Homo sapiens: one gene and its partners. The protein of the gene in region 2 purifies or fractionates together with the protein of the main gene of each other region. This does not show direct contact. Each region holds a gene or a part of one and is shown on either strand. Other genes may lie near its edges.

Evidence for each region.
Region 1: the proteins of SLC20A1 (region 2) and POM121 purify together in Homo sapiens (affinity purification with mass spectrometry; one large-scale study listed by BioGRID and IntAct). This does not show direct contact.
Region 3: the proteins of SLC20A1 (region 2) and BMPR1A purify together in Homo sapiens (affinity purification with mass spectrometry; 2 studies listed by BioGRID and IntAct, with this or other methods). This does not show direct contact.
Region 4: the proteins of SLC20A1 (region 2) and SLC9A1 purify together in Homo sapiens (affinity purification with mass spectrometry; one large-scale study listed by BioGRID and IntAct). This does not show direct contact.
Region 5: the proteins of SLC20A1 (region 2) and NOTCH3 purify together in Homo sapiens (affinity purification with mass spectrometry; 2 studies listed by BioGRID and IntAct, with this or other methods). This does not show direct contact.
Region 6: the proteins of SLC20A1 (region 2) and NDFIP1 purify together in Homo sapiens (affinity purification with mass spectrometry; 2 studies listed by BioGRID and IntAct, with this or other methods). This does not show direct contact.
Region 7: the proteins of SLC20A1 (region 2) and MTX3 purify together in Homo sapiens (affinity purification with mass spectrometry; one large-scale study listed by BioGRID and IntAct). This does not show direct contact.

Annotation. Positions count from the first base shown.
Region 1 is NC_000007.14:72,927,793-72,931,832, forward strand, and holds part of POM121 (nuclear envelope pore membrane protein POM 121), read left to right. Parts: intron 1-592; coding exon 593-673; intron 674-2,147; coding exon 2,148-2,319; intron 2,320-4,040. UniProt on the Homo sapiens protein: Essential component of the nuclear pore complex (NPC). The repeat-containing domain may be involved in anchoring components of the pore complex to the pore membrane. When overexpressed in cells induces the formation of cytoplasmic annulate lamellae (AL).
Region 2 is NC_000002.12:112,652,124-112,656,163, forward strand, and holds part of SLC20A1 (sodium-dependent phosphate transporter 1), read left to right. Parts: intron 1-578; coding exon 579-675; intron 676-4,040. UniProt on the Homo sapiens protein: Sodium-phosphate symporter which preferentially transports the monovalent form of phosphate with a stoichiometry of two sodium ions per phosphate ion. May play a role in extracellular matrix and cartilage calcification as well as in vascular calcification.
Region 3 is NC_000010.11:86,913,225-86,917,264, reverse strand, and holds part of BMPR1A (bone morphogenetic protein receptor type-1A isoform 3 precursor), read right to left. Parts: intron 132-4,040; coding exon 1-131. UniProt on the Homo sapiens protein: On ligand binding, forms a receptor complex consisting of two type II and two type I transmembrane serine/threonine kinases.
Region 4 is NC_000001.11:27,106,325-27,110,364, reverse strand, and holds part of SLC9A1 (sodium/hydrogen exchanger 1), read left to right. Parts: intron 1-587; coding exon 588-838; intron 839-2,499; coding exon 2,500-2,717; intron 2,718-4,040. UniProt on the Homo sapiens protein: Electroneutral Na(+) /H(+) antiporter that extrudes Na(+) in exchange for external protons driven by the inward sodium ion chemical gradient, protecting cells from acidification that occurs from metabolism.
Region 5 is NC_000019.10:15,183,580-15,187,619, reverse strand, and holds part of NOTCH3 (neurogenic locus notch homolog protein 3 precursor), read left to right. Parts: intron 1-281; coding exon 282-515; intron 516-631; coding exon 632-742; intron 743-1,940; coding exon 1,941-2,133; intron 2,134-2,211; coding exon 2,212-2,363; intron 2,364-2,600; coding exon 2,601-2,714; intron 2,715-3,169; coding exon 3,170-3,325; intron 3,326-4,040. UniProt on the Homo sapiens protein: Functions as a receptor for membrane-bound ligands Jagged1, Jagged2 and Delta1 to regulate cell-fate determination.
Region 6 is NC_000005.10:142,136,138-142,140,177, reverse strand, and holds part of NDFIP1 (NEDD4 family-interacting protein 1), read right to left. Parts: intron 2,445-4,040; coding exon 2,320-2,444; intron 1-2,319. UniProt on the Homo sapiens protein: Activates HECT domain-containing E3 ubiquitin-protein ligases, including NEDD4 and ITCH, and consequently modulates the stability of their targets. As a result, controls many cellular processes.
Region 7 is NC_000005.10:79,984,424-79,988,463, reverse strand, and holds part of MTX3 (metaxin-3), read left to right. Parts: coding exon 1-2; intron 3-148; coding exon 149-225; intron 226-1,356; coding exon 1,357-1,514; intron 1,515-2,804; coding exon 2,805-2,893; intron 2,894-4,040.

The DNA of each region.
Region 1 (4,040 bases), on a different chromosome or scaffold from region 2:
AGTTGAAGTGGCTGAGCATTTATTGAGCACCCACTGTGTATGGGACCCTACTCCAAGTGCTATGGATAGAGCGGTGGACAAGACAAAATCCCTGCTCTCATGGGACTCTTGAGGGAAACACCATTTTATAAGGCTGGGTGTGGTGCTGCACGCTTGTACTCCTAACACTTTGACAGGCCAAGATGGGAGGATCGCTGGAGCCCAGTTGCTCAAGACCAGCCTGGGCAACATAGTGAGACCTCGCCTCTACAAAAAATTAAGAAATTAGCCAGGTGTGGTGGTGCATACCTGTAGTCCCAGCTACTCTGGAGGCTGAGGCAGGAGAATCGCTTGAACCCAGGAGGCAGAGGTTTGTTGCAGTGAGCCAAGATCGTGCTATTGCACTCCAGCCTGGGCAACAAGAGCGAAACTCTGTCTGAAAAAAAAAAAATTTACCTTTCAGAAGCTTAGGGATTTTAAACAACCATTTTCTGGTCTATCATGGAATCTGTGCTCCATAGAGATAGTATAAGGTCCCAGAAATATGAGAATACACTTTAAAGGGACAAAAAAAGTCATGTCATTTCATTGAGACTTTTTTGATTTGTCGCAGGCGCCATGATAGCAGTGGCAGTGGACATTCAGCATTTGAGCCCCTGGTGGCCAATGGAGTCCCCGCTTCTTTTGTGCCTAAGTAAGTGGGAGTCCATCCGGATGAAATACCAACTGTTTGGAAAAAGGCCTGATCAGAGCTGTTGCCCTATAGATTTTCCTCTTTGTTTTTTGCATTGCTTAATTGGTTCAGGTTCACGTCTTTGAAATTAGGAACGTTTTGAGTAACTTGCCACAGTTAACTGCCTTCTGTCTAATTCCTTTTAATGTTCTTGCATTAATATGGATGAAATATGCTGAGACTTAAGAGGTTTTATAAATATATTTAATAACCAAGCACATACACAGAAGGATTGCAAAGTTTGTGCAGTGGATAAAACAGTATGAAACCTAAATGTTAAATTTCTACATGTCAGTTTAAAAACAAATTGGAGGAAGAATTGGGTGGAAAGGAAAGTGGCTCAAAAGTATGTGTGGAAAGACTTAGGATACCTTAGGTACCTCATCTGAGTCAGCAGTGTGATGTGGCCGCCAGGAAAGCTAAAGTGCTCCTGGTCTGTGCTGTTAGAAGAAAGACTAGAATGAGGCAGGTGGATGGTATTCCTGCCTTCCGTAGTTCTGCTCACTGTCCGTGGAGCACTGTGGTCAGATCAGTGTACTGCACTGCGAGGGAGGATGTACACAAACGGAAATTCATTCCCAGTGAAGCAATGAAGATGTTAAGGAGATTTGCAACAGCCCAAAGGGGTGGTGGTGGATGTTGGGGTTTTGGAGGTATGGAAGTATTAGCCCAGAGGAGAAAAGTCTCAGGGGGAATAAAGAAATAAGTGAGGGAAGGACAATGGTCTCCAAAAAACCAAAGGACTGTCCCTTGAAAGAAGCAAAATAACTTGCTCTGTTTGACTTCAAATAGGATCCGTGGGTGAAAGAGGAAATACACTGTAATCCACTGTAAGAATAAACTGGTTCATGGTTGACGTGGGTCACTCTAGGAGAGAGTTGTCTATATTGTAACAGGTTGGATGACTGTCCTACAGAAAAGATGCGTAGGAGATTTCTGTTTCCATTGGAGGTTTAGTAAAATGATGGGTTCCTCTTAACTCTGATTTTTTTTTAATAGCTTTGTTGAGATATAATTGACATAAAATAGACCGTACTTGTTTAAAGCATGTGACATTTTGACACACATACACCTGTGGAACCATCCCACCACTAAGATAATGAACATCCTTCACCTCCAAAAGTTCCCACATGCCTGTAATCCCTCTCTTTACTTCCACCCCTGTTCCCAGGCATCCACTGATCTGTCTTCTGTCACTGTAGATAGGTATGCATTTTCCAGAATATTCTATAAATGGAAATCATACATTTAAGTTTTAAATATTTGGCTTTTCTTACTGACTTTGTCAGATAGATTTGGCCAGATTGTTAGCAGTAAAAATTAAAAGCATTATTCTCTTCCCTTCATGTTATTAAGAAAGATGTCATGACCGTGGATGAAATCGTAAAAGAATTTTGCCTTCAATAAAGCATCTAACTGTCTTCTCTTTTATTAGGCCTGGGTCTCTGAAGAGAGGCCTCAATTCTCAGAGCTCAGATGACCACTTGAATAAGAGATCCCGAAGCTCTTCCATGAGCTCCTTGACAGGCGCTTACGCAAGTGGCATCCCTAGCTCCAGCCGCAATGCCATTACCAGTTCCTACAGCTCCACTCGAGGCATCTCACAGGTACAAGTACAGCTCTTTTAATGTGGGGGACATGAATTCCCAGCGTTCATTCATTGACTAGGGCCAGACATGGTAGCTTAGCCATGTAATCCCAGCACTTTGGAAGGCCAAAGCGGGAGGATTGCTTGAGCCCAGGAGTTCAAAACCAGCCTGGGCAATATAGTGAAACCTTGTCTGTACAAAAGAATTTTTAAAGAAAATTTTTTAAATAAAGTAATTGATTAGCAAAGGTTTACTGATCACCTTCTATCTGTCAGACATTAGAATTGTCTTTAAGCTAATAGAAAATACAGATCATTGAGTGATCAATATAGGCCAGCGGAATGGAGTAGAAAGCCCAGAATGTACAGCAGTGCATGTGTGCGAGCTGATTCGAGACAGAGCTGTGTTGTAGATAAACGGACAGAGGGTGATTCGAAAGGTAGACTGAGTCCAGCTTGTATTGGGTCGTAAAAGAGATTTATCTTATAGGCGTTTAGAATTGAAAGCGGGGTTTTTAAACAAGTGGTCATGATTTTTTGGAAAAGGGATTATCGCATAGTATAGGGAACAGGGCAGGCTTTGCTGCTGGACAGACTTAGATTCAAATCTTGGCTCTGAGGCTGGGCGGGATGGCTCATGCCTGTAATCCCATCACTTTGGGAGGTCAAGGTGGGAGAACCTCTTGAGTCCAGGAGTTCAAGACTAGCCTGTGCAACAGAGCAAGACTGTGTCTCAAAGAAAAGGAAAAAAATGCTTGGCTCTGACATCTAGTAGCTATAAGGTCTTGGGCAGACAATCACATAACATCTCTTTTTCTTATCTCTGAAGTGCTGTTGCAGTGATTGAGGGTAATATTTAAAAAGCACCTATTACAGTGGCTGTCAGTAAGTGGGTACCCAGTATACAGCAGCCAGACAAAAAGATGTAAAGCATGTATGGAGAAATGTTTTTGAGAGGAGGAAGATTTTGAGACGAGTTCATCAGCCCAGAAGGCTCTGACAGTCATATAAATGAACATTAATGACCGTAATATCATTATCCCTCTTAATAATTTAAGAGGGATAATTAATATTATTTAATATCTAGTTATTATTTTTGATATGCAAACTTTTCCAGCTTTGGACTATGGGTTCCAAACTGGCTCCTGTATCCTTTATTTTGATCCCAGCAGTCTTCGACAGATAGCTTCATTGCTTTTTGCCCACCTTCCCAAAGTCCATTTTTAGCCTATACCGAAGTTGGGTGTTTCTTCAGAAAGCTTTGGTTTCTTCCAGTTAGAACTGTAGAGACTACAGTCTAAGTTTTAGGAGAGATAAGATAGACAGATCCTCTAGAAAGGGGAATATAAATAATTCATAATATTCCAAATTCAAATTTATGATAGTAGGATTTTTTATGTAATTTATTTGATTTTATATTTTTATGTATTACACCAAAAATGTCGGTTTATAATTACTTTGATCCTAGTAACACGCAATTTCTTTTTTTTTTTTTTTGCCGGAGTCTTACTCTTGTCGCCCAGGCTGGAGCACAGTGGTGCGACCTTGACTCACTGCAATCTCCGCTTCCTGAGTTCAAGCGATTCTCCTGCCTCAGCCTCCCAAGTAGTTGAGACTATAGGTGCCCGCCACCATGCCCAGCTAATTTTTGTATTTTTAGTAGAGACGAGATTTCACCATGTTGGCCAGGCTGGCATCGAACTCGTGACCTCAGGTGATCCACCCACCTTGGCCTCCCAA
Region 2 (4,040 bases):
TTCGGTGCCCAGAATAGCACTTGGCACACAGTCTTTTGAGTGAGTGGATGACCTTGTGCACAATCAGTTATTATCATTGAACTTCGGTAAAGCATTAATTGTGGCATCTTTGTCAGATGTTTAGATAAGATGGTTGGCGTACGCATAGTCTGCATGTTGTATTTTTAGTCTTTGAAGATATGAAGTCAGGTAAGCAACATCCTAACATAGTCTATTTCTTGACATCTCTTACAAACGTAGAGTATAGCCTATCCTCAGGTGTGTGCTGAAGTTTATATTAGGGCTTTTGGGTACCTTAGAATGTGGGTATTGCAATCTTTATTCAGGATGTTATCAGTCACTGGTACAGTTAGTCTTGTTATTAAAAGAAAAAAGAAAAAAAAACAGGTAGAAGTTGGAATTAGCCTTCGTAGGAAGAATTCCAGATGCAAATGCAGGAAAAACTCTGTTGTCCTTGGAAACTACTCTGGAGAGAGTTATTGGCACTATAATTCCCAAACCTACCCTGTTAAAAGATTCTGTGGAAATGGGTTAACCTTTATACCTTTTAAGATATTGATCTTAATGATGTTTTACAGGCAGATCCAGTTCCTAATGGTTTGCGAGCTTTGCCAGTTTTCTATGCCTGCACAGTTGGAATAAACCTCTTTTCCATCATGTATACTGGAGCACCGTGTAAGTACCTATCAAAATATTTAAATGTGAATTTAAAGTTGTTTACAAAACTTGCATTAAATGCCCAATTTACCCCTTTTTGCTTTACAGGGCTGAAATCTCCTAGAAGGTGGCTGGCCTGCGCCCATTTCAGAAGGCTGCAGGCTAGTGTACGCTGAGTTAACCTAGATAGTTTTTCAACCAAAGAGACCTGCTCAGATTCTAAATCACTACAGACCTTTCCTCTTTAGTCTTCACAGGATCCACTGATAATATGATCATCTCCTTCCCTTTCTCCTGTCTATGCTAAAAATGCTGGAATTAATACTGACCTCAACTACTGAAGTCATTAGTTATATCTGATCTTCAGTAATCAGTCATTTAGGACTGGTTTGCTGGATATTCTCATTTTTCTCTCCCAAATGGAGATACTATTGTTTCTAAGTACTAAACTTCCATGAATCTGCTTGAATGAGAAGAGTTGGGATGTTTACCACCTGCTCTAAGTGCACTTGGAAGAAGAAATTCATGCAGCTAAGAGGAAAAATAATTTGTGAGAATATAAAGGTTGAAATGTTGATGACTTTCATGTTTGGGACTAAGGCAAGGCATGGATTAAATTATGGCGCTACAAGTTTAATTTAGCAACAACAAAAGATTGGTAACTTGTAACTGGCAGGACAGTACAGTTTTGGTATCTAGACTCATTTGGCCTGATGGTCTGTGACTACATAGGCAGTGACTTTTATTCTTTATACTGTGACCCACTGGATGAAATACAGGACACACATGTATGTATGTAGAGAGAAAGATAACTGGAATAGTGTCATGAAGCCACTTAATGCTTACTATGTGCTATGCACCCATATTTTCAAATTCTCTCTTTTTTTTTTTCTTAACATTTGTTGTGGCCCACTGAAATGATTTCAGTTTTGAGTAATGGGTTGTGACTTGCTCTTAAACCTCACTGAAGTAGTAAGTTGCTGACCCAAAGTAGAGTTAGCTAAATATTTTTATTATTTATTTATTTTTTTGAGACAGTTTTGCTCTTGTTGCCCAGGCTGGAGTGCAATGGCATGATCTTGGCTCACCACAACCTCTACCTCCCGGGTTCAAGCAATTCTCCTGCTTCAGCCTCCCAAGTAACTGGGATTACAGGCGTGCACCACCAAGCCCGGCTGATTTTGTATTTTTAGTAGAGACGGGGTTTCTCCATGTTGGTCAGGCTGGTCTCCAACTCCTGACCTCAGGTGGTCCGCCTGCCTCAGCCTCCCAAAGTGCTGGGATTACAGACATGATCACCGCACCTCGCCAATATTTTAATTTTTTACCTTATTTTAGATTGAGGGATTATATGTGTATTTTGTTAGATGGAGCTAAGTATTTTTAATCTTGCTAATTAATTCTTGGAATAATCAGGAACGAAACAGACAACTTTAAGAAAATATTGTTCTTACTTAGACTATACTGAACTGCTATGTGCCGGTGAAGAGAAGTTTGTATGCCAGATTTCCATTGTAAACAGTTCTTTGTGATAAACTAAAAAGTCTCCCATGATGCTCTTAACACTCATTCTTTATGTGGTAGAAGCAAAGCTCAGAGATGAGTGAAATTAGAATCATTTTAAAAACAGAAACTTAGATATTTTCGTTGTGTCCTTTATGGATCATTTGTAAGAAAAACCAGTCTCTTTCCTTTTTGACTTGGAATGTAGACCAACTTAAATTGTGATAGACAGTAATTTCATGTATATTTTAGTTTGTGTGACCACATGATCAAAATTGAAAGCAGAATTTAAAATGAAAAGATACATAGTCACCATAGAATTGTAGTTTGGGGCCGGGCGCGGTGGCTCATGCTTGTAATCCCAGCACTTTGGGAGGCCGAGGTGGGTGGATCATGAGGTCAGGAGTTCAAGACCAGCCTGGCCAAGTTGGTGAAACCTCATCTCTACTAAAAACTAGAAAAACTAACCAGGTGCAGTGGCAGGCGCCTGTAATCCCAGCTACTTCGGAGGCTGAGGCAGGAGAATCACTTGAGCCTGGTAGGCGGAGGTTGCAGTGAGCCAAGATCGTGCCACTGTACTCCAGCCTGGGCGACAGAGTGCGATGCTGTCTCAAAAAAAAAAAAAAAAAGTTCAAAAACAAAAAAAGTTTTAGTTTTGAAGGGACCTCAATTTGTTTCTAATTTTTTTTTTTTTTTTTTTTTTGAGACAGAGTCTCGCCCTGTCACTCAGGTTGGAGTGCAGTGGTGCGAACTTGGGTGACTGCAACCACTACCTCCCGGGTTTGAGCGATTCTCCTGCTTCAGCCTCCCGAGTAGCTGGGATTACACATGTGCATCACCACGCCCAGCTAATTTTTGTATTTTTAGTAGATACGTGGTTTCACCGTGTTGGTCAGTCTGGTCTTGAACTCCCAACCTCAGGTGATCCACGGACCTCAGCCTCCCAAAGTGCTGGGATTACAGGCGTGAGCTGCCGCGTCTGGCCTTGTGTCTGATTTTTAAAGATTAATCATTTTGGGGTATGATAGAATTTCCAGTTTATAAGTACAAACAGTCCCTGACTTCATGGTTCAACCTTCAGTTATTTGACTTTTTGATGGGTTTATAGGTACATAACCTCATTGTAAGTTGAGGAGCATCTGTGATTTCGTACATAACAAGCAAAATAAAGCAAAACAAGCAGAAGTAACTAAGCTATTCCTAGATATCAACTACAGATCATTATAATATCTTTTATGGGTTTTTTTTTTTTTTTTTTACCTTTTTTGTTTTTCAGGGATGGGGTCTTGCTGTGTTGCCCAGGCTGGCCTTGTATTCCTGGGCTCAGGGTGTTCTCACACTTCAGTCTCCTGAGTAGCTAGAGATCATTATAACATCTGTTAGATTTAAATAGGATTGTATAGTGCTTTACTTCTTTTCGTTTGTTTTTGTGACGGAGTTTCGCTCTTGTCACCCAGGCTGGCTGGAGTGCAGTGGCACGATCTTGGCTCACTGCAACCTCGACCTCCTGGGTTCAAGTGATTCTCCTGCCTCAGCCTCCCAAGTAGCTGGGATTATAGAAGCCCACCACCACATCCAGCTGATTTTTTTAATTTTCAGTGGAGACGGGGTTTCACCATGTTGGCCAGGCTGGTCTTGAACTCGTGACCTCAGGTGCTCCACCTGTCTCAGCCTCCCAAAGTGCTGGGATTACAGGTGTGAGCCACTGTGCCTGGCCAGTGCTTTACTTCTGTCTTTAGTACAGGCTAATGGTTTGGAGCCTACTGGCGTGCATATGACAGTCAGATAATGACTAATATTACTCATTCTTAAACCATGTGAACAGTGTTGCTAGGCAAGTCTTTTTTTAAGGTAAGACTTGTAAGTGAAATTACCACTAA
Region 3 (4,040 bases), on a different chromosome or scaffold from region 2:
GCTTCTTCAGTGGTAAAGAATACTTTCACCGCCACTTTTTCGCCACGCCATTTGCCCATCCATACTTCTCCATATCGGCCTTTACCAACTTGCCGGACCATCTGAATCTGTTTGGCAATAGTTCGCTGAACCTTTATAGAAAAAAGTAAAAGGTTTGAGCTCTTGATGAAAGAAACCCATTAAGACTGGCAAAGGGGTAGTCCATCTCATCAAAAAGCATGGTGTACCCAACCAACTCCAGTTAAAAACTTATAATGTACTTTTTTTTTTTTGAGATGGAGTCTCGCTCTGTCACCCAGGATGGAGTGCAGTGGCGCGATCTCGGCTCACTGCAACCTTCACCTTTTAGATTCAAGTGATTCTCCTGCCTCAGCCTCCCAAGTAGCTGGGATTACAGACACCCGCCACCATGCCCAGCTAATTTTTTTGTATTTTTAGTAGAGATGGGGTTTAGCCACGTTGACCAGGCTGGTCTTGAACTCCTGACCTCAGGTGATCCACCCCACCCCCGGCCTCCCATAATGCTGGGATTACAGGCGTGAGCCACCATGCCCGGCCATAATGTACTTTAAAGTATGAAACAATGTACAATGTATTCTGAAATCATAAACAGGTTATTCAAGTGGCTGGCTGTTTGCAAAAATGGTCATAATAATTACCCTCCCAGTGCACACAGTCGTGGGTAGTCTTGGTCCACAGACTCAGGGCTTAGGCCACATGACTTGCTTTGGATAAAAGAACAACAGCGAACGTGATGCAAGCAAAGACCTGACAAATGTTTGTGGACTGGGGCTTGCCCCCTTCCTGCTGCTTTGGGAACCCTGTGACCAAAAAATAATGGCAGCATGAACTGTCGGCCAAGGGTGTGAACTACACCACCTAGCTCTAGCTAAGCAAGTCCAACAAATGAACTGCCCCACAGACTCACAGAATGAGAAATAATGTTTGTTGCTTCACATCACTAAGTTTTGGGGTGGTTTATTATGCAGCAAAGTCCAAATAACAGTTAAAGATCTTAAAAATCCCATCTATAAGACCCTGCCTGATCTGGCCTGGTCCCATTATTTGCTTTGACCACCCACCCACAAACCTCGTTTGACTTATCTCAACTTTTAGAATTCACTCAAGCTTATTCCTGTCGCTGGGTTTTTTTGAATATCCAGTTCCCTTTACTTAGAGTGCTATTTTCTCACTTAAACACCTTCATAGCACACAAAACCTCTCAGTTGCTGCGCTTAACACAATCATAACTTTATTCTTATTTACATATATATTTGCTTGAATTCCATCCCCTGCTCACAGAATATAAGTATTTATTTGGGACAATATCAGAAGTACTTTAATATTTGTTAAATAAAAGATGTACATGGATTGTTATCTTTCATTTTCAGAAGCATTAGTGATCATTCTAAATTAAAAAGAACATTATGCTCCAAGTTGGAAATGCTTCTAAAATGGACTAGATTTAGTGCAAAGCTAAAGTGACTTTATGTATCATTTATTATAGAATCCTTTTGTAAATTTTGTTCTGTTTTTTTGAGACAGAGTCTCGCTCCGTTGCTCAGGCTGGAGTGCGGCGGCCAATCTCAGCTCACTGCAACTTCTGCCTCCCCAGTTAAAACAATTTCCTGCCTCAGCCTCCCGAGCAGCTGGGATTACAGGCATCTGCCACCACGTCCAGCTAATTTTTGTATTTTTAGTAGAGACAGGGTTTCACCATGTTGGCCAGACTGGTCTCGAACACCTGACCTCAAGTGATCTGCCTGCCTCAGCCTGTAAGTTTTTAAGTCAAGATTATTGAGGTATAATTTATATAAAATGTACCCTTTTTGAGAAAAGTTCAACAAGCCTTGGACAAATCTATATCATGTAATCACCAATACCACAATTAAGATACAGAATATTTTAATAACGTAAAAAAATTCTCACTTTTTGGCCAGGCGTGGTGGCTCACGCCTGTAATCCCAACACTTTGGGAGGCCGAGGCGGGTGGATCACCTGAGGTCAGGAGTTCAAGACCAGCCTGGCCAACATGGTGAAACCCTGTCTCTACTTAAAAAAAAATACAAAAATTAGCTGGGCATGGTGGTGCATGCCTTAATCCCAGCTACTTGGGAGGCTGAGGCAGGAGAATCACTTTTGTGTAGCCTTTTGTGTCTGGCTTCTTTCATGTAGCATAAAGTACTTTTGAAATTCACCCACTGTTGCTGCTACATGTGTTAGAAGTTGTTCCTTTTTACTGATGAGTAATATTCCACTGTATGAATGTACCAGCATTTGTTTATTCATTTAGCAATTCATGAGCTTTGGGGTTGTTTCCAGTTTATGTCTATTATAAATAAAACTGCTATAAACATTCACATTCAGGCCTCTGGTGTGGACAAGTTTTCATATCTCTTGGGTAAATAATTAGCAGAAGGATTGCTTCATTGTACGGAAAGTATGCCCTTAACTTTCCAGGCAATTGTCAAACTATTTTTCAAAATAGCCATACCATTTTGCATTCCAACCAGCAATGTATGAGATTTCTAGTTGATCTACATCTTTGGCACCACTTAATATTATCAGTCTTAGCTATACTAGTGGATGTGCAGTAGTATCTTACTGTGTTTAATTTGTATATCCCTGCTGATGCTGAGCATCTTTTCATGTGCTTGTTTGCCATTCTTATATCTTCTTTGGGGAAGTGTCTGTTCAAATCTTTTGTCCATTTTTTAAAAAAATTGGGTTATCTTATTATTGAGTTGCAAAAGGTCTTTATATATTTTGCACAAAAACCCTGTATCAGATCTGTTTTGCCAATCTGTGACTTGTCTTCTCATTTTCTTGTCTTCTAAATAGCAGAAGTTTTAAATTTTGATAAAGCCTGATTTATCATTAAAAAAATGATTTGTGTTTTTTATGTACTGAAGAAGTCTGCCCAAGGTCAGAATAATTTTTTCAGACATTTTCTTTTAGAGGTTTTATACTTCAACTTTTACATTTAGGTCTATGCTACATTTCAAGTTAATTTGGTATAGAGTGAGGAGGTAAGGACTGAGATTAACTTCTTGGTAAATGGATTCCTGATATTTCCTGCACCATCTGTTAAATGGACTGCCTTTTTCCAATTGAATTACTTGGGCATCTTTTTGTTTTTTTTTTTTTAATCAATTAACCATATTAAGTGCATGTTCCTTTCTAAACTCCATAATCTGTTCCATTCATCAATACATCTATCCTTATGCCAGTACCAAATTGAGATCATTATTGAGTTTTACGGTAAGTCCAGAAATCAGGTAGTGATTCCTCTTTGTTCTTCTACTTCAAAATTGTTTTGGCTCTTCTAGTCCTTTGCATTTCCATATAAATGTTAGAATATACATCAATTGCTATAAAAGTTTGCTCTGATTTTCATTTGGATTCGAATGAAATTACACACCAATTTGAGGAAAACTGAAATCTTAATACTGAGTCCTCAGATTTATAAACATCTCCACTTATTTAGGGCTTTATTAATTTCTTTCAGCAATGTTTTATAATTTTCAGTGTGCAGGTCTTGCATAAATTGTTAGGCTTATTCTAAATATTTCATGGTTTTTGATGCTATTTTAAATACTGTTTTTATAATTACCTAATTGTTTGTTGCTAGAGCCTATAAATTCAATGGTATTTGTACAATGACTCTGTATTCTGCAACCTGATAAAGTCATTTACTGGCTGCAGTAGTTTTATTGTACCATTCTTGGGATTTTCTACGTAAACAATCATGTTGTCTGCCTATGAAGGCAGTTTTACTTTTACCTTTCCAATTCAATTAGAGTTATTTAATAAGATGAATTTCAAAATTAGAGATCAGGGTGGGTGCGGTGGTTCACACCTGTAATCCCAGCACTTTAGGAGCCAAGGTGGAAGGATCAGTTGAGGCCAGGAGTTTGAGACCAGCCTGGCCAACATGGAGAAACCTCATCCCTCAAAAAAAAAAAAAAAAAAAAATTAGCCTGGTGTGGTGGTGCATCTGGTAATTCCAGCTACTTCGGAGGCTGAGACGGGAATTGCTT
Region 4 (4,040 bases), on a different chromosome or scaffold from region 2:
TTTTCAGAAAGCTCCAGAGGTTAAGAAATGACATTCTAGTTCATTGTGTGAACGTCCCTTTTTTGTGCTGAAGGAGGGACTGAAACCCAGTGATGGGCATGACGTGCCCAAGGTCAGGCAGTGAGAGGCAGACTTGATAGCACCAGATGTGGCTAACACTGCATCAGGTAAGGCTCCGAGCACTTGATTCGCTGATTTAGTCCTCACAGCAGTCCTAAGATTTGGTATTATTATCCTCATTTTATAGACAGGAAAACTGAAACACAGGGAGATGAATTTGCTTCCTGTACACAACTCAGGAGTGGCAGAGCCAGGATTCCAGTCCAGGCAGTTTGGCTTCAGGGTCTTCACAGAGCTTCCCAGGGCCCACCCTTCACCAGTGGGGCACGTGGCTGGCCCAGAGCAAGCCCCTCAGCCCCAGGCTGAGGTTTTGAGCACCTGCTTGGCACTAGGGTTTCTCTGCTACCGTGTGGCCTCTTCTTGTGGCCATGGTTAACGGAGGGGACAGGATTGCCCTGGGTGGACCCCAGGGAACCGTGGGGCCAGGGCCCTCTCCTCCCACCCACCAGCCTGCACACCCTCCCCAGGTCCTGTATCACCTCTTTGAGGAGTTTGCCAACTACGAACACGTGGGCATCGTGGACATCTTCCTCGGCTTCCTGAGCTTCTTCGTGGTGGCCCTGGGCGGGGTGCTTGTGGGCGTGGTCTACGGGGTCATCGCAGCCTTCACCTCCCGATTTACCTCCCACATCCGGGTCATCGAGCCGCTCTTCGTCTTCCTCTACAGCTACATGGCCTACTTGTCAGCCGAGCTCTTCCACCTGTCAGGCATCATGGCGTGAGTCTGCGTGCAGCAGGCAGTGGGCTTGGCGGGGTGGGGGCGGGGGCTGCCAGCTTGGATTCCCCAGGCTCGTAGGTTCACGGAGCTCCCAGGGCCCAGCCTTGAGCTCCAGGGATGAGACATGAACTCCAGGCTCCAGACCTGCTTGGTAGCCATTTAAATGGCCAAGGGCATCAGTGGCTTCCTAGAAGAGGAGCACTTCTGCAGCGCCCCCTGGGGTCCAGGAATCGGGAGAGGGCATTTCAGGCTATGAGCAGATGAAGCAAGAATGACCTGCATGAAGGCAAGCCCAGGGTATAGGAGAGCAGAGCCTTGGAAGCCACTAAGCTTCAGGTTGAGGAAAGCCACAGCCCTGCTACTTCATTGTCTCAAAGGGAGTCCCCTCAGCAGCCCCAGTAGGAGGCTCACCAGGCCTGAGTCCTGGCGGTCCTGAGGTCTCCACCGGGTCTGGAAATGGGGAGAATGGGATGTGGGGAGGCAGTGAGGGGTGAAGGTGTTCCAGTGCCGAGCAAGGCAGAACTGGGGTTCAGAGCCCCTGGCTCCCAGGAGCAGAGCCCGGGTGTGAGCACTGGGCTGGGAGGACTCCGAGCTCCAAGCAGCTGCTTGGAACAAAGCTCCCTGTGGAGACCCCTGTGTAATGGCAGATGCCACGCTTGAGGGGAATGAACCCAGGAGACCATGGGTCTGTGTCATTGACTCCTATTGGGTCAAGAGGCAGTGTGGCCTTGGGGCAAAGGTGCAGGCTTTGGAGTTGGACACTGTGGTTTGTGTGTCTTGGCTTTGCTGCCTGCAGGCAGCGTGACAGGGGAGAGGTGACTATTTCTCTTAGAGTCAGATCTCTCATTTTTTTATTTGAGACGGGGTCCCACTCTTGTCACCCAGGCTGGAATGCAGTGGCACGATCTCAGCTCATTGCAGCCTCTGAGTTCGAGATTCTCCCACTTCAACCTCTCAATTAGGTGGGATTACAGGTGCCCACCACCACACCTGGCTAATTTTTGTATTTTTAGAAGAGACTGCATTTCACTACATTGGCCAAGCTGGTCTCGAATACCTGGCCTCAAGTGATCCGCCTTTGTCGGCCTCCCAAAGTGCTGGGATTACAGGCGTGAGCCACCGTGCCCAGCCAAGATCACTCATTTTAAAAATGGAGGAATAGGGCCGGGCATGCGCTCGTCGCCTGTAATCCCAGCACTTTGGGAGGCCAAGGCGGGTGGATTACAAGGTCAGGAGTTCAAGACCAGCCTGGCCAAGATGGTGAAACCCCGTCTCTACTAAAAATACAAAAAAATTAGCCAGGCGTGGTGGCGGGCACCTGTATTCCCAGCCACTCGGGAGGCTGAGGCAGAGAATTGCTTGAACCCGGGAGGCGGAGGTTGCAGTGAGCCAAGATCGCGCCACTGCTCTCCAGCCTGGGTGACAGAGTGAGACTCGTCTCAAAAAAAAAAAAAAAAAAAAAAATGGAGGAATACACCGTGTCTATAGGGTTGATGTGAGGATGAGTGGCAAGAGGGTGTAAAGCACACAGCGGGCCCCTGGCCCATAGAGGAGCTTGGGACATGGGCACCTTGGTCGTGGCCCCATTGCCCCTGGCAGTGGAGGGGCTCGAGCAGGTGCAGCTCGACACGGAGCCCTGACCCCGCTCTTTCCTGCTCCAGGCTCATAGCCTCAGGAGTGGTGATGCGCCCCTATGTGGAGGCCAACATCTCCCACAAGTCCCACACCACCATCAAATACTTCCTGAAGATGTGGAGCAGCGTCAGCGAGACCCTCATCTTCATCTTCCTCGGCGTCTCCACGGTGGCCGGCTCCCACCACTGGAACTGGACCTTCGTCATCAGCACCCTGCTCTTCTGCCTCATCGCCCGCGTGCTGGGTGAGGGCCAGGGCTGGGGCGGGGTGGGGGTTGTGGTGTGGGGTGTGTGTGGGGGGTGGTGGGCTGTGGTGCTGTGTGTGTGGTGTGTGCAGTGCACTATGTGGAAGGGCCAGGCTATGTGGTGTGTGCATGTGGTGCAGTGTATAAGTATTGTGTGGAGGGGCTGGGCTGTGGTGTGTGTGTGTATGCGTATTGCGTGTGTGGTGTGTGTAGTGCATTGTAGGGGGGCTGGATGTGTGTATGGTGTGTGTGTAGTGTGTGGAGGGGTTGGGGGTGTGTGTGTGTAGTATGTTGTGTGGAGGGCTTTGTATATATGTGTGTGTTGTGTGGAGGGATTGGGCTGTGGTGCAGTGTGTGTATAGTTGTGTGGAGGGGCTGGGTGTATATGTGGAAGGGCTGGGTGTGTGTGTAGGGGTTGGGTGTGTGTAGAGGGGCTGGGTGTGTGTGTGTGTGTGTGGAGGGGCTGTGAGGGTGTGGGTGTGTGTGGAGGGGCTGTGAGGGTGTGGGTGTGTGTGTGTAGAGGGCCTGGGTGTGTGTGTGTGTGTGTGGAGGGGCTGGGGGTATATGTGTGATGCAGTTTGTGGTGGAGGTTTCCTGGTTGGCTCCTGCCTGCTCCCAGCACAGCTAGACAGGAGGGACTTCCCATTTCCATGATGGGCCCTTCAGCAGGGAGAAGCCTGTGTCACAGCAAGGCTGTGGTCTCTGGGGACAGAGTCAGGCTGTGTCAAAGTGAGGGGGCCCTGAGACTCTGAGCCTGTGGCTGTGGCTGTCCTGATGAGGGGCCTGAGGCCCACAGAACCCAGGTCTGTGACTCTGAGCTGAGTGCTCTCTGCACTGTCTCAAGACAGGTGACGTGAGCATGTGCCGAATCGCATGCAGAGCCACGTGCAGTCCTCCAAACCTATGCAGCAGGCCGGGGCACACGTGGGGACCAGGCCCCAGGTGCATGGGTTCCACTCACATGTGCCCCACATGCCTCACCCCAGTGCCTCAGTCGCCTCCTCCCTGGATCTCTCACTTCCTCTCTGAGGGTTAGGTCCATGTCCCCAAGCCTGGCAGGACCTCACATTTATTTGGTGCACTTTTGAAATCCCCTTTATTCCTGAGCCTCATCCTCCAGGGATTCTGGTTCTGTGGGTGGAGGTTGGGCCCAGCCCTCTGCATTTTTTATGCTTTATTATGGAAAATTTCAAGTACTTAGAAAAGTAGAGAGAATAGGATCATGACCCCCCACACACCCATCACATTTAACAAGTATTGACCTGTGACCCATCTTGTTTGATCTTTTCTCCCTCTTCCTGCCCCCAGCCCTCCAGCCACTGG
Region 5 (4,040 bases), on a different chromosome or scaffold from region 2:
ATCTCCAGTGGAGGGTGGGGCAGAAACAGGGCTGGAGGTGGGGCCACAGCTGGGGGCGGGATTTAACTGTGGGAGAGTCTTGGCTAGGGACAAATTCTGGAGCTTGTAGTGGGGTGGAGTGGAAGTAAGTGGGGGGTGGGGGGTGGGGCCTGTATTGAGCTCGCCTCCTGACAGCTTGATGGGCAGGGCCTCAGATAGAGCTGAACCAGGATTGGTCCGAGGCCTCACTTGTGGGCAGGCCCCTGGCAAGTGGGCGGAGCCTGACCCTCTTGGCCCCACAGGCTTTGAGGGCACGCTGTGTGATCGCAACGTGGACGACTGCTCCCCTGACCCATGCCACCATGGTCGCTGCGTGGATGGCATCGCCAGCTTCTCATGTGCCTGTGCTCCTGGCTACACGGGCACACGCTGCGAGAGCCAGGTGGACGAATGCCGCAGCCAGCCCTGCCGCCATGGCGGCAAATGCCTAGACCTGGTGGACAAGTACCTCTGCCGCTGCCCTTCTGGGACCACAGGTGGGACCGGGGGCTGGGGCAGAAACAGCACACCTGGAGGGGCACAGAGGGTTTGGGAATGGTGCATCTAGTGGGGCACAGTGGTGGCCACTCCATGCCATGTTCCTGGCCCCTAGGTGTGAACTGCGAAGTGAACATTGACGACTGTGCCAGCAACCCCTGCACCTTTGGAGTCTGCCGTGATGGCATCAACCGCTACGACTGTGTCTGCCAACCTGGCTTCACAGGTGGGCAAGTGGCTGCCATGAGAGGGGGTCCTTAGATCGAGGGTGAAGTCACTCGTCTCTGTGGGCCTGTTTTGCCCGTATCTTTGCAGACTCTTGTCCAACGAGGTTGTCCGTGCTTTGCCCTGAGTCTGTGCTGTCTCATTGGCATAAGGTTGTTTCGAGATTATTCTGCAGGCTGGGCGCGGTGGCTCACGCCTGTAATCCCAGCGCTCTGGGAGGCCAAGGCAAGTGGATCACTTGAGGTCAGGAGTTCGAGACCAGCGTGGCCAACGTTGCGAAGCCCCATCTCTACTAAAAATACAAAAATTAGTCGGGTGTGGTGGTGGGCGCCTGTAGTCCTAGCTACTCGGGAGGCTGAGGCAGGAGAATTGCTTGACCTCAGGAGGCGGAGGCGGCAGTGAGCCAAGATTGTGCCACTGTACTCCAGTCTGGGCGACAGAGTGAGACTTCATTTCAAACACACACACACACACACACACACACACACACACACACACATACAAAAACAAACAAAAAGATTATTCTGGAACATAGATGAAAGTGTCCAAACTCAGTGACTAGGTTATTTCTGAATGGGTCTAAACTAATCCTTAGTGGAAATGAATGTGACTTTGCTAGGTGTGTTGGCTCATGTCTGTAATCCCCCAGCACTTTGGGAGGCTGAGACATGAGGATCACTTGAGCCCAGGAGTTCGAGACTAGCCTGGGCAACATAATGAAACCCTGTCTCTACAAAAAATAAACACACTCCCAAAGCCAGATTAGTCAATACGTAGATAAACACGCACACACATGCACACACAATTAGCCAGACGTGGTGGTGCGCAACTGTAGTCCCAGCCACTCGGGAGGCTGAGGTGGGAGAATCGCTTGAGCCCAGGAAGTGGAGGCTGTGGTGAGCTATGATCATGCCACTGCAGTCCAGCCCGGGCGACAGAGTGAGACCCCATCTCAAAAAATAAGAAGAAGAAGAAAAGAAAAAGAAAGGGACTTCATGGAAGTTTGGGGACCAGAATGATCTGGGGCAAGTCAGCTCTTGGTTGAGGAGGCGGGTGTCCTAATCTGCACAAGAGCTGATGCGTTATGAAAAAGAGGTCATTGCTCGGGGGTGTGGGTGTGCTAAGTGGGGTCACGTCGTCCCTCCCTGGTTGTCCCTGCTGACTTTGTTCTGAGATGAGATTGCTTGTGTACTCCCCAGGGCCCCTTTGTAACGTGGAGATCAATGAGTGTGCTTCCAGCCCATGCGGCGAGGGAGGTTCCTGTGTGGATGGGGAAAATGGCTTCCGCTGCCTCTGCCCGCCTGGCTCCTTGCCCCCACTCTGCCTCCCCCCGAGCCATCCCTGTGCCCATGAGCCCTGCAGTCACGGCATCTGCTATGATGCACCTGGCGGGTGAGGGCCCTTCTCAGCCTCAGACACTGCCCCCTCTCCCTGGCCCACCTCCCTGGCCTGACTACCTTCCCCTGCCAGGTTCCGCTGTGTGTGTGAGCCTGGCTGGAGTGGCCCCCGCTGCAGCCAGAGCCTGGCCCGAGACGCCTGTGAGTCCCAGCCGTGCAGGGCCGGTGGGACATGCAGCAGCGATGGAATGGGTTTCCACTGCACCTGCCCGCCTGGTGTCCAGGGTGTGTACCTCACCTTCCCTCTGCAGCCCCACCAACACCATGGGCCTTCTCATCTCTCTTCTCCTCTACTCTCTCCTCCCGCTATGTTAGCTTCTTTTTTGCTTTCAATCATTTCCCTCCAGGAGCTTGGGAGGTGGGTATCAAGGTGGGGACCCTGGGGTTGGGGGAGGTGGGGGGAGATGGGATCAGGGAGTCCCTCAAGGCTATCTCTGCTTCCCTCTCTTCCACCCCCAACAGGACGTCAGTGTGAACTCCTCTCCCCCTGCACCCCGAACCCCTGTGAGCATGGGGGCCGCTGCGAGTCTGCCCCTGGCCAGCTGCCTGTCTGCTCCTGCCCCCAGGGCTGGCAAGGTATGCCACCTGCTTCTCTTCCCTCCTCCTCTCCATCTCCTCTGCCCCCTACCCTATCAGGGATGATGCTGGGGATCCAGAGAGGGACCCATCCCCAGCCCTGCCTTTGAGAGGGGCTTCCTTCTTGGAAGGACAGAGCTGGACACTGATATGCAGCCTGTGTGGGTCAGCCCTTGGAAGAGGAAGAGTTATGGGGCTAGAGATGCTGGGACTTAGGGCGGGGTTTAGGGTACAGCTTCCTGGAGGAGCAGACCTCATAGTAGGTATTTGCCACCTACTGAGACAGGGAGACGGCCATTCTGAAACTGCATATGCAAAATGCCCAGACACGAATGACAGCACGGCTTATTTTGCCTTCACCCATCTCGGCCTGCAGGTTCTTCCTGAGCCCCAGGTCCCTGAGACCCTGCTCTGTACCCTGTAACCCTAGGTGTAACCTTGCTCCCTACCCCCAGGCCCACGATGCCAGCAGGATGTGGACGAGTGTGCTGGCCCCGCACCCTGTGGCCCTCATGGTATCTGCACCAACCTGGCAGGGAGTTTCAGCTGCACCTGCCATGGAGGGTACACTGGCCCTTCCTGCGATCAGGACATCAATGACTGTGACCCCAGTGAGTGCAGGGGAGCTCTTGGGGGTGCTGCTCTGGGGAACACAGTCATTAAGCTTGAACTGTGTGCCTGGCACTGTGCTGTCATTTCATCTTCACAGTTATCTTACTTTTCCCGTTTTATTTATATGGAAACTGAGGCCCGAGGAGGTTGAGTGACTTCTTGTGCAAGCCCATGGAACGAGTTAGGGAATGAGCTGGGCTTAGAACCTTGGAGTCTGTGTGCTGCCTCTTTTTTTTTTTTTTTTTTTTTTTTTTTTGAGACAGAGTCTTAGCTCTGTCGCTGGAGTGCAGTGTTGCAATCATCGCTCACTGCAACCTCTGCCTTCTGGGCTCAAGCACCTCAGCCTCCCCAGTGGCTGCGACTATAGGCGCACACCACAGCGCCCAGCTAATATTTTGTGTTTTTTGTAGAGACGGAGTTTCGCCATGTTGCCCACGGTGGTCTCCAATTCCTGGGCTCAAGCAATCTACCTGTCTCCACCTCCCAAAGTGCTGGGATTACAGGCGTGAGCAACCACACCCGACCTAAGTGCACTGTCTTTGAGAGCAATCGAGTTAATATCATGTGCAAAGTATGAGATAAAAGGCCCCCCAGAGGCCGGGCGAGGTGGCTCACACCTGTAATCTCAGCACTTTGGGAGGCCAAGGTGGGCGGATCACCTGAGGTCAGGAGTTTGAGACCAGCCTGGCCAACATGGAGAAACCCCATCTCTAC
Region 6 (4,040 bases), on a different chromosome or scaffold from region 2:
CGTGACCAGCAAGACTTATTTGTTCTACCAATGCCATCACTTAGCCTTTAGAATAATTTTAAAATATAAGTGAAAGTATTTTACATATTACTAGCTTGAAATGGTTACAATAAATGCAAATCTATTTCCTTTCAAGGAAAAGCAATTGTTAAATATGACAGCTTTTAGCTTTATTAACTCCTTATTTTGAAAGTATACAAAAATTGGTTTTTTTAGAAAACATTTTCCCCACATAATATTTGCTCTTCTAGAAATGTGTTTCAATAATGATCGTTTTACTTTGCCTATTCAGTGCCAAAAGCAATTATTATTATTATTAATTTTAAGAGACAGGATCTCACTATGTTGTCCAGGCTGCATTTGAACTCCTGGGCTCAAGCAATCCTCTCACCTCAGCCTCCTGAGTAGATGATACCATTGCCTTCTTTCTAATGAGGCCTGATTTTCTTCCTACTCCTCCAGCCTTGTCTTGACTTTGGAAGCTTTATCATGTATACCAGGGTAATCCCCTTCCCTTGCTGGTTTAGGAATGGGCACAGGATGCCATTCTGACCAGTGGAAATTGAGGGCTTCTGAGAAGCTTTCCTTGCTTCTCAAAGAAAAAAACAGTTCTTTCTAAAGGTGGTAGAAAATTTTTTTTTAAATAGTTCTTTTTCTTCTCTTGAGCACTGTCGTGTTTCAATGTAATACTGATACGTGAAACTGCCATCTTTTAACCCTGAGGGGAGGGGGGACCTGTGCCAATATGCTGATATGTCAGCTGTCCTTGATGATGTCAAAGAACCACTGACTTAACTAACCTTGTCAGGGACTTGTTTTCAGGGGAAATAAAATTTCCCCGTTTAAAAAAACAATTAAAAATTTTTTTCTAAGCCATTTTGAGCTAGGTTTTTGTTACTCACAGTCAAAAGCATCCTACCTGATACAAGTTAATTCATTTAACTTTTTTTTTTTTTTTGAGAAGGAGTCTCGCTCTGTCGCCCAGGCTGGAGTGCAGTGGCACGATCTCGGCTCACTGTAAGCTCCACCTCCTGGGTTCACGCCATTCTCCTTCCTCAGCCTCCCGAGTAGCTGGGACTACAGGCCCCCGCTACCATGTCTGGCTATTTTTTTTGTATTTTTTTAGTAGAGACGGGGTTTCACCATGTTAGCCAGGATGGTCTCGATCTCCTGACTTCGTGATCTGTCCGCCTCGGCCTCCCAAAGTGCTGGGATTACAGGCGTGAGCCACCGCACCCGGCCCATTTGATTCACTTTTTAAATGCAGTTGAAAATTTAGTTTGAAAAAAAAAAAAGACTGGAATTAATTTTATTTCTCTTTTCCTTGGAGGCTTTGGTGTCCAAGAGTTTAATGTAGTTCGAAAAGTAAAATATAGTATTTTCTTTGTTAATAAAGTAACAATTAAAATTTAGGGAAGGAATGAAAACCTCTTTAGGGCTCGAGTTCTTAACCTAAAGTCCATTATTATAGATGAGTACATATTAGCTATGTGGGGGAAAAGCTTACAACTTTCATCAGATTCCCAAAGGATTCTGGAACCCTAAAAACGTTAACAAATGTTTTATAATAAATAAGGTGGCACTACGTAGAAAAACTACAGTGGTCAAGCAACACCCATTAGTTAGTTAAGTATGCCAATTTATGACGGATAAATTGGTTTTGTTTATAAGGTTGACGATAGCAATAAATTTATCTGAAATCAGAGGATACTTTAAAAGCCTAGATCTTTTACAACTGTAAATTACTTCATGCAAATTTAACTAACTGGTAACTCTGAAGTCACTAAAGACATACATCTCTGTAATTTACTTGAGAGGTAGGCTCCTAATGGAGCAATACTTGTTAAACAGTTTTGGCTCCCCAAACATTTTGGCATAAGCAATCCTGGAAGGGAGAGGGGAAGAGAAGGAGAAAAGAAAAGAAGGAAGAAGAGAGCTAGATTAAAACTGTAACAGAATTAATGAGAGGAATGGCTGCTTTTGATGAGATATCAAAGGGGTAATATCCTTCCTTTTATTATAAAAACAACTAATTTCAGAACATATACATTATCATATTATAAACATTAAAAACAAACAAAGCAGATGGTGAACAATATTAATGATAGACCAGTTTTCAATAGATTTGACAACAAAACTTGTGTGCATGAACCATTTGCAAATGATTTTGGTTCAGCTTCATCATGAAACCACAGACAAACCAAAAATCATTTAACACACTGAAATAACTTTTAAAAAAGCAAATGAAAAATCGAATATTCAAAAATATTCTGATTATTGCCTCTCTGTAGAGCCCATCTTTTCTGTTATACAACTTACCCTGACAATCAGGATCCATTTAATTAGAGAGAGACCAAATCCTGAAATGGCCCCATACCTTCCTGCAGCTGAAGTGGTCAGGCAAAAAGACAGGAAAAACCCAATCCAGTTAAAGAGGAATGCCACTGCAAAAGCAGAGGAGGGGAAAGATGTTAGACATGTCCTGTTACCCAAGAACAAGAGTGCCTTACACCTGCCTCTGTTTAAATGACTTTCCAAAGGATAAAAGACAGCCTGTCCTCCACAACCGTCACCATACCTCCTCTAAAACATCCATTCTTCTGTCTTTCCCCAAAAAGCAAACAAGAAAAACTCCTCCCTATCAGGTTTTACACACTTATGTCTACTGCTAGTCACTTTCAAAAACGCCTTAATAGGCTGAGCACAATAGCTCACATCTGTAATCCTAGCACTTTGGGAGGCCAACGTTGGAGGATCCCGAGCCCAGCAGTTTGAGACCAGCCTGAGCACCACAGTGAGACCCATCTCTACAAAAACTGAAAAAAACAAAACAAACAAACAAACAAACAAAAGCCGGGCACAGTGGTGCACACCTGCAAGTCCCAGCTACTTGGGAGGCTGAGGTGGGGGGATCACTTGAGCCCAGGAAGTCAAGGGTACACTGAGAAGTGATCACACCACTGCACTCCAAATTCAGCCTGGGCAACAGAGCAAGACCTTGTCTCAAAAGGAAAAAGCAAAAAAAACAAAAAACAGCAAAAAGCAAACCTTAACATTCACCAAACTGTATACTTACAACCTCTGCTTTTTTTTTTTTTTTTTTTTTTGAGACTGAGTCTCACTCTGTCACCCAGGCTGGAGTGCAGTAGCACGACCTTGGCTCACTGCAATCTCTGCCTCCCAGGTTCAAGTGATTCTCCTGCCTCAGCCTCCCGAGTGGCTGGGACTATAGGCGTGCACCGCCAGGCCCGGCTAACGGCTAATTTTTGTTTTTAGTAGAGATGGGGTTTCTCCATGTTGGCCAGGTTGGTCTTGAACCTCTAGCCCCAGGTGATTCGCCCACCTCAGCCTTCCAAAGTGCTGGGATTACAGGCATGAGCCACTGTGCCCAGCCTTTGACCTCTTTTTTTTTTTTTTTTTTTGAGACGAAGTCTCACTCTTGTCCCCCAGGCTAGAGTGCAATGGTGCGATCTCACCTCACGGCAACCTCTGCCTCCCGGGTTCAATCGATTCTCCTGCCTCAGCCTCCTGAGTAGCTGGGATTACAGGTGCCTGCCACCACACCCAGCTAATTTTTGTATTTTTAGTAGAGATGGGGTTTCACCATGGTGGCCAGGCTGGTCTCGAACTCCTGACCTCAGGGCATCTGCCTGCCTCGGCCTCCCAAAGTGCTGGGATTATAGGCATGAGCCACCATGCCCAGCCTGACCTCTGCTTTTTACTGTGTGTGTTATATATATATAGTCCAGTAAATAAAATAAATGCCTTCAACATTAAATAAGTGCCCCCAAATAATCTGATTCAAGTCACTCATCCTCCTGTTCTCTGAATTTTGACAACTTATATAACATCACCTCTAAAAGCATTGCATTTTCTTATCTTTCTAATACAACAAATAAAGGAAATGGTTGCTCACTTCTATGTGAGGCACACAAAAAGATAAATGGCAAGTAACATGAAGGGAGAAAATCAGGCTGACTTTGATCTGTCAGAAAAAAGAAGCTTTCAGAGCAAAATTCATCAAAGGCATTTAATTCCTA
Region 7 (4,040 bases), on a different chromosome or scaffold from region 2:
AGGTATAGTATGGATTATTCTTCAAGCAAGGGCCCTAGAGAGAAAGGACAAGATAAAATGCAGACTTGAGTTTACCTAGAGATGCCTTCCTCAAAAGTAGTTTTAGAGTATCTTTTCTACTTTTGAGATATAATTTCATCCTTATTAGATATACAGAGATGCCAAGGAGTGCCTAAATCTTCTATCAAACAGATTGGGAACATCTCAGTTTTTCTTTGGAGATACGTGAGTATTCCCTTAAAAATCATTTTGGTATTTTGTGCACATATATTCAGTGAGCAGCTATTTAAAGCAAGTCCTCTTATCTCCCCAAAAGATGAGTTTTTTACTTAAAAAAAACAAGATTTAGGCCGGTGTGGTGGCTCATACCTGTAATCACAGCACTTTGGGAGGCCGAGTTGGGCAGATCACCCGAGGCCAGAAGTTCAAGACCAACCTGCCCAACATGGCGAAACCCCATCTCTACTAAAAATACAAAAAATTAGCTGCGTGTGGTGGTGGGCACCTGTAATCCCAGCTACTTGGGAGGCTGAGGCAGGAGAATCGCTTGAACCTGGGAGGTGGAGGTTGCAGTGAGCTGAGATCACGCCACTGCACTCCAGCCTGGGTGACAAGAGTGAAACTCCATGTCAAAAAACCAAAACAAACAAGAAAAAAATTTAATGGGCTTTTATTATAGGAAACTTTTTCTACCAGTGATAATCTAACATTGACTTAATAGGCTGCATATGTGAATTTAAAACATCTCAGACTGTTCCCACTCTGCCTCCAGTCTAACATTTGTGAGTAAAAATGAATCTATAAAGACAATTTCATTTTCTCCTAGAGTCTAAGCTACTCAATGAGTAAAACCTTGGTTGCATAATTTTTGTAAACTGAAATGGATAGTAAACCTTTTAAGAGACTATACTGTGTAATTCAGAATTGAGAATTTTGAAAAAAAAATTAAACACCATCCCAAGTTAGTATTTTCTTATGTGCTTAAAAAAATCCTTAATTTAATTTTTTTTTTTTTTTTTTTTTGAGATGGAGTCTTGCTCTTGTTGCCCAGGCTAGAGTGCAGTGGCATGATCTTGGCTCATTGCAACCTCCGCCTCCTGGGTTCAAGCAATTCTCCTGCCTCAACCTCCCAAGTAGCTGGGTTTACAGGTGCCCACCACCACGCCCGACTTCTTTTGTATTTTTAGTAGAGACAGGGTTTCACCATGTTGGCCAGGCTTATCTGGAACTCCTGACCTCAAGTGATCTGCCCCCGCTTGATCTCCCAAAGTACTGGGATTACAGGCATGAGCCACCACACCCGGCCTTCAGTTAATATTGTCTTATGTGCTTTAAAAATCCTTAATTTATTTCTAGGCCTTCTACCTTGGATGCCTATGTTTTTGGTTTTCTTGCACCTCTTTACAAAGTACGGTTTCCTAAAGTTCAGCTACAAGAACATCTGAAACAGCTCTCCAACCTCTGTCGCTTTTGTGATGACATCCTGAGCAGTTATTTTAGGCTTAGTCTTGGAGGTAAGCTGGCTCTTTTTCAGCTAATGTTTGTTTGCATATTCTCCTATGTATGTATAAGCAAAATCCACTACTTATTTTAATTTTAGAAGTTTGTGTATTGTCTTTAAATAGTGGTTTATAGCACTTCAAGGATTTGTGTTTTTCCGACTTCATTTTTATTCTCATGTTAGTTCTTATTTAAATAGATAAATAGATATTTGCCTTTTATCTATTCCGCTGGATTTTTACGTTTCTTCTTCTTGTTCTTTAAATATTACCCCTTTGAAGTGGGTCATTTTCTTCTAAAAGGTTAAAACCACAGGTATTAAGTCTTTGCTGAAAAACAGTATTTATCCTAATGCAAATGGACAATTACTTTAAATGATTTTTACCTGCTGCTTCTAGCATTTTCCTGCATGAACAGAAATCAGCAGCAGATTGATTTTGGTGAGGTACACTGCCATGATTCCACTACTTGAAAACTGATTGCATCAGAATGGAAGTATAGTAAATAGAGGGCACCTGTTACTTAGGATGTGCTTCATTGAGAGAGTGGAGCCTTGTGCTTAAGTGATTCAGATACTAAATTTCTATTGGGATGGTTGGCTGAAATTGTCCTTTTAAGAAACAGGTTATAAAGATAGCTGGCTTAGGTGGACAGTTTATTATTTTTTGGTGGGTTATGTATTCTGTATACAGGAAGGGGTTAGTAGTTTGGGAGTCATGAAATTAAGTAATGTTCAACCGTGTTAACTTGGGAGCAGTGGTTAGCAAACCTGATTATTTGACAGATAAAAAATCTTGGGTCCTATTCCAGACTTACTAAATTAGAATCTTTTAGGCATCAATCCTAGGAATTTGTATTTTTAAGTTCTTCTGAATACTTTGGATGTCTGGTGGGCAACTTTTTGGGAGTTACTGCCTTAGAAAACTATCCAGATAGTTGTGACCAAAGACCTATTTGAAATGGGTGTGAGAAAGGAATAGCTTAAACTTGAGAAGGAAATGAGGACTACTGTGCTTTTTTTTTCAAAAAAAAAAAAAAACTAATTATTGTGGCCAATTGCAGAACACTTGGTTAGCAGTGTCTACTTAGTGGATAAATTTTTGTCCGTTTTGCTCAGGGTTTAGTTTTAGAGCATTCGAATCCCTCTCTTCGCCTTTAAACCCAGAATGGTTTTCCTCTTTGCCTTTTTTGGGGAGGGTGGGGCACTGGACAGGGTGGGTAGACTCAAAATTCTTTCAATCTAAATAGCTTTAAAGGCTTTAAAAATTTCCTGTCTTTCTCTGATTTCTGTCCTGGCTTCTTAGGCATCTCTCCAGCTGGACAAGAAACGGTAGATGCAAATCTGCAGAAACTCACACAACTTGTAAATAAGGAATCCAACTTGATTGAAAAGGTCAAGTCTACTTCAATCATTTTATCATAGTTCAGTATTTTCCTTTCGGTAGCTAATATTGTCATTTGGGTCACACATTAACTGTACCCTTTTAGTTTTTTTTATAGAGTTTGTTTTTCAGAAAACTGTTTAAATATACTTTCACTAAAGTTGTATGTAACATAGTGTTTTGAAGCCAACAGTGGCCTGATTGGGGAAAGATCAGATAAGAGTATTGGGTTTACTTTTGCCACACAGTTAGTACCCTTTAAGCTAGGAAATCCAAAAGATTTGCTTTAAAAAAACAAAGCGGCCGGGCGCGGTGGGTCACTCCTGTAATCCCAGCTCTTTGGGAGGCCGAGGCGGGCAGATCATGAGGTCATGAGATCGAGACCATCCTGGCTTATACGGCGAAACCCCGTCTCTACTAAAAATACAAAAAATTAGCCGGGCATGGTGGCGGGCGCCTGTAGTCCCAGCTACTCAGGAGGCTGAGGCAGGAGAATGGCATGAACCCGGGAGGCGGAGCTTGCAGTGAGCTGAGATCGTGCCACTGCACTCCAGCCTGGGCAACGGAGCGAGACTCCATCAGAAAAAACACAAAAAAAAACAAAGCAAAAACACTTCTTGCTTGTGTGTCTGCCTCTCTGTCTCTTAATGTTTCTTAAGATTGTAAGCACTGGGCTTATCCTTTCTTATTAACAGCACCGTGTTCTTTTCTTCTTTCCACATGAAAGTTTTATTTTTTTCTCCTTCTTGTTCTTCTCTGCTCTAGATATAGTTTATAGTTTTTTCACCAGTGTAGATATTTTGCCACTTGGGGTGTTCTTTTCATGAGAGAAACATTGAGGAACTGGGTAGGGGAGAGAACCAACAAAGGAAATTTCAAGTGTGATTCTACTAGGAAAAATACAAAGAGGTTACATATTTTTTCCCCTGTAACTGATAAGCTTGCTTTTTTTTTTTTTCCTGATACAAATAGTAATACTTACTATTTTACAAACTCATAGGGCAATGAGGCCTGATGACACTGGCTAACAGTTTTTGAGGTCCACCACTGTGTTATTTGAGCTTGATGTGGGTTACCTCATTTAGAAGTGATCCAGTGTTTGGAAAACCACTGGATTACATTTAAAGAATTTATCTTTCTTTTTGCCTAATGTACTAG